2 separate regions of the Homo sapiens genome follow, and region 2 is linked to region 1. Evidence: fine-mapped expression QTL. Tissue or cell type: visceral fat. Region 1 holds a variant in brackets; the other region holds the start of a gene. All regions are shown on one strand. Distances are between the middles of the regions.

Region 1 (2,760 bases):
TTACAGTTATGTCCCTCTCTCCTCACCTTTCACCCAAACTCTACCTTCTCACCTGTTATTTTTTCCAATAGAGAAACATCTTGCACTTCCTGGGGCAGAGAAGCAATTTTCTGTCGGACAGTAGCATCCCCTGATGCGGCATTTTCCAGATCCTGCAAAGCTTTGATTAGTTCCTCAGTCTGTAAGATGAAAACACAAACAACACTACCCATTAAGACATGGGGTTTAAAGAAAATTAGTTGGAGTTAAATGAGGTGGAGGCAAATTCTAAAAACAGTCATTCCTGCCATTTCTTAAAAAAAACTGTTCTTAGCCCCAGAGCTTACATGTAAGTCAATGTCACGGACTCTAAGAAAATCCACAAAATTAGTTTATCTAAGTCCATGGCAGAACATGAATGAAATTCTGAATAATTATTATTATTTTTTAATTCTAAAAGAACATGTTTTTGGCAATTCAAAACAATGGAGTTTGGTTCATGTTGCTTAATTTCAAATGATGTATCATTTCCAGTATAGAATAAAGGTATAAATATCAGATGTTAACAACTGTGTGTTGTGGCCAGGTGTGGTGGCTCGCACCTGTAATCCTAGCACTTTGGGAAGCCAAGGCAGGAGGATCACTTGAGCCCAGGAGTTCGAGACCAGCCTGGACAATATAGCGACACCCTGTCTCTACAAAAAAATTAAAATAAAATAATAAGCCAAGCATGGTGGCATATGTCTATAGTCCCAGCTACTTGGGAGGCTGAGGTAGGAGTATCACTTGAGCCCCAGAGGTTGAGTTTGCAGTGAACTATGATCATGCTACTGCACGCCAGCCTGGGTAACAGAGCAAGATCCTGTCTCAAGAAGGAGAAGGAAAAAATTATATGTTGACTGATCAACCTACTTCAATTCTTTCTTGGGTTTTCTTGACAAAATGGATGTCACTCCCAAAATTAAATGTATCAAACTTATTATAAACCCAGGGGGAAAAAACAAGAAAAGTAAACCAGGGATACATTTTCTGTATATATCAAAAAGGAGTTTCTTAAATTGTCAGAAAACAATGCTAACAGGCCACTCCATAATCACCAAGGAGTAGCTAGCTCTGTAGATGGTAGTTAGATTACCCTGAAAGGTAATAATCTAGGCTGTAGTCTTTAAAGTGTTTAAATCCA[AAG/G]ATATATGACCTAACACTGCTGTCATTTAATCCCTAGTCTAACTCAACACCGTAACATAACACAAACTAGACATGTTTCCTATTTACATAGGCTTTAAGCATGACCATGTGTAATAAAGCTGTTTTAGGCAAAATAAGATGAAGCCCCCCCCGCCCCCGCCTTGAAAAGAGCATGGGCTCTGAAGTCAGACACACCTGGATTTAAATTAAGACACTGGTCAAGTTACTTAAACTGTCACCTTGTGCCCAACTTCTTTCATTTAGATTTTGTAAGCTAACCTGTATAGCCAAATAACACAAACACATGGGTAAAGACTAACTCCTTGTTTCAATATTTAATAGGCTACAGTGCAGCAAATTTGCTATTGACACATAGACTGTCTTTAGATATTAATGAGTTACTTTATAAAACTACCATGCTACTGGAGACAGGCCATGGTAGACGACTTTTGAATATCTTTGTAATATTATCTATCCCTTTCTCCAAAATCTATTTTTAAAGAATATTCTTAATTTCTAGGATTGAAAAAACCAAGTCCAAGTACTTTATAAAACATAAGCCCATCCCAGAGTTATGGCACGCAAAGACATACTGACACCTGCCATCCGGCAAGCTCCTTTGGGCAGGATGATGCACGGGGCCCCTGAGAGGTGCCCTCTGATGATTCCATACCAGTGGTCACTGGCGCCACCTTGTGGCCATAGTCTTCAACTAGAGGTCACTTTAAGCCACTGTTCCCTACTCTCTGGGGGTCAAGACCTACCAAGAGGGGTCCTGCAGAAGGATCCTGAGGAGAGTAGCTGCCAGGGTAGTCGTCATCCTCCTCCTCCTGAATTTGCTGAAAAGTTCGTTTCAGAGATTTCTTCTCTTCTGTTGCTAGACAAAAGAGAAAGTAATAAATTTGAGTCACATATCCTGTAGTGATAAGTCACATGCTATGCACAATGGGCCACATGTAAAAACAGGGCAGAAGGGGCACACATTTTCAGAATGGCTTAATAGTAACCTTTATGCTAGTTATTTTAAATTGACTGTAGTTCCCTACATTACTGAAAAGAGTCAAACAGGTCTTTGTCCGTCATCTCAGATTGATTCTCTGGTAAAATACTACAGAAAACAGGCATCTAAAGCGAAAACTTACCCAACTATCACACTTGAGTAAGAAACTCATGGGACAATACAATGAAGCAAACCAACGTGTGCTAGGGTTTACAGAGAAGATATTGTGTATAAAATGAGATACGTTATGCTTTCCAGGGATCATTTCAGAAAACAGGAGAGAAAATTTTATCAATAAAATTGTGTCAAACACAAATATTCTTTACACTATTCCCCTAAAAATAAAATAAATCTAATTTTACCTTAAAATTAAAATAACCATTACTGAGACATGTGATTGATACTACTGAGAAAAATTACTTAAGTTACCATTTTAAATTTAACCACTTTTGAGGCTGACAGGTTACATTATTTATGATCTATCTGCACCGTATGTTTTTACATTGTTATGATAGATGTGTTAATTCCAAAATCATTCTTTTTGCATCAAATTAGACAATACAAAATAAATGCCAAACAATTGTGGGAAATAAATC
Region 2 (2,500 bases), 110 kb before region 1:
CTTCCCGCTCAGGGCTCACAGTGGATCCGGAAGCACAGGAGACCAAGAGACCAGAGATACCAGGATGAGAGATAGGACCCCTGGTTGCCAGGTTCGAGAAGTCCTAGGCTGAGTCCCTGGAAAGTTAGTCTTGCTCCTTTCTGGCACACAGTGGGGCCTCAAGAAAGCTCAGTGGATGGATGGATTGAGGGAGGGAGGGAAGAGAAGGCCGAGGGAGGGATGGATGAAGGGATGAGTGGATGGATAGGTGGGGGGGTAGGTGATGCATGGGTGAGTGGATGGATGGGTAGATGGATGGCTGATTAGATGGATGGCTGATTAGACAGATACAAGGATGGGTGAGATCGGAGGATTATCTGGGTTTTGCTACAGGAAGGGACATGGGTGTGTCTGTTTTTGCAGGTGTGTCTGCATGTCTGTACCTGAGTCCATGCCTGCATGTGTGTCTACCTCTGAGTAGCCACATCTTTGTGTGTCTGTGGGTGCCCTCTCTGATTTTGCGTCCACATCTGACAGTGGCATTGGTGTCTAGGAGGTCTGTGTGTGTGCCAGGTGCCTCTGGACACCTGCTCATCTGTGTCCACAGCTGTGTGTGGCTCGCGGTCAAGGCTACCTGGCTGTGTCAGGCTGTATCTATGTCCTGGTGTGTGTCTGCCATTCGAATCTGAATTTGTATCCATGTCACTGTGTCTGCGTGGCCAGCCGTGTTTGGTGTATCTGTGGGAGTGTATCTGTGTTTGTGTGTGTATCTCCACAGCCCTGTCTTGGTGTGTCTGCGTCTGCTCTCTGTGTATGTATATCTGAGTATGTGTGTGAGTGTGTGCGTGTGTGTGTGTGTGTGTGTGTGTGTGTGTTGGGGGTGGGGAGGTGTTCTTGATCCCAGATCTGACCTAAGAGTCCACATCTGTGTGTCCAGGTGCACCCCGGTTCCGTTGTGTGTTTCTATGAGGGTGCTGCGTGTGTCTGTATCTGAGTGTGTGTGTCCAGGTGTCTGTTCTCCAAGGTCTGAGTCTGTGGGTCCAGGTGTGTCTGTATCCTGGGCTAGTTGTGTGTCCCTGTCCGCTCCCCCAGGGGGCGCCCTCGTCCGGCCGCCGTCCCTCCCTCGGGCTCCGGTCCCCTGGGTGAGCCCCAGCGCTGGCGGCGTGGGCCCGGGACTGGGCAATGGGTGGCCTCCCAGGTCGCCGCCTTCCCGCGGGGCCCCGCCCCCGGCCCGCCCCAAAGCGGGCTATAAGTTAGCGCCGCTCTCCGCCTCGGCAGTGCCAGCCGCCAGTGGTCGCACTTGGAGGGTCTCGCCGCCAGTGGAAGGAGCCACCGCCCCCGCCCGACCATGGCCGAGGGTGAGTATCAGAGTCACCGCAGCCGCCACTCAGGGGCCCCGGGGCATTGGGGGTCAGGACCCGGTGGGAGCTGAATCCCTAAGTCCTGATTTGGAGAGCAACAGGCAGACCGGGCTGGGTGAGGAGGCGTCTCAATGCTGCTTGGAGCCTCAGTTTCCCCATCCACACTGCATAACCATTAACCCTTGCCTCCCTGGATCAGGTGAGGCAATGGAACGCGACGGGGTGTTGTAAACTGTAAAGTACTGTCCTGGCGGACCACTGGCACGTGTCCTCAGTCAGTCAGTGGGGGCTGGCTCTCTGATGTGTGCCTGGAGCTGTGCAGGGGGTGCTGGCCTGGCCTCAGAACACTTAGGTTTGGGTGGTTCTTGCCAGCCAGGACCAGGTGGTGTGCATGCCACGCCGGTGGTGTGCAAGCCAAGCCTGGCTGAGTCCTTGGCTCCAGCGGCCAGAGAGGAGCTTTCGGCATCCTATCCAGGAGCCTTCGGAAATCAGGCTTGTTCTTCCCGCCCTCACGTTCTGCAACCCTAGACCTTGGCCAATTGTTGAGTCTCACCTATAAAATAAGGACAACAGTGTCCTTATTTTATAGGACAAGGTTTATGAGATTTGTTTTCCCCCAAGACCCCCACCCATCTGTCACCCTGACCGTGCCCTGGTCCTCTGCTCCAGCCTTTGGTGCATCTGTGAGGAACGAGAGGAGTGGAACAGAGGCTTAACTAATTTCATACTGGTGCCCCTGACTCCCTCCCCACACACAAGCAGCACTCTCGTAGGTCCCAGCTGGAGGGATTTCTACAATGGAGGATGTCACTGCTGGACCCAGAATCCCAGCTGGCTCTTGGGTCAAGTTCATCTGGGGATGGCTTCTGCACCCATTGCAACCCCCAGGAAGGGGTGTGGGACAGGGACATGGGGCAGGTGGAGCAGGAATGGGTGGCAGGAACTGTGGACCCACCTGACCCTGCTGTGTGATCTCAGCCACCTGCCTCCCTCGGGCCCAGCTCCCAACACACTGTGATGTGTCGCCTCGGTGGCCGCTTGTCCTCAATGCATCTTCTCACCCCCATGCTCAAAAGCAGGGCTCAGTGGGGCTGGGAGATCCTGGAGATGCCAGTTATGATGAGCCTCCAGCCCCATGTCACAGTGGCCACTTCTGACAG

The links. PIP is the estimated chance that this variant, and not a neighbour inherited with it, causes the effect.
Region 2: it holds the start of TGM2, and the variant in region 1 is fine-mapped to the expression of TGM2 in visceral fat (GTEx, PIP above 0.99).

Annotation. Positions count from the first base shown.
Region 1 is chr20:38,056,813-38,059,572 of GRCh38, reverse strand. It overlaps RPRD1B (regulation of nuclear pre-mRNA domain containing 1B), which reads right to left. Exons shown (of 7, transcript NM_021215.4): 4 at 1,929-2,041; 5 at 53-179. Among named protein-coding and RNA genes, the nearest start is that of RPRD1B, 24 kb to the right of the region's middle. The variant AAG/G (reference allele first, on the strand shown) is at 1,163.
Region 2 is chr20:38,164,026-38,166,525 of GRCh38, reverse strand. TGM2 (transglutaminase 2) reads left to right here and starts at 1,256. Exons shown (of 13, transcript NM_004613.4): 1 at 1,256-1,337. The coding sequence starts at 1,328. RefSeq lists a silencer at 964-1,403.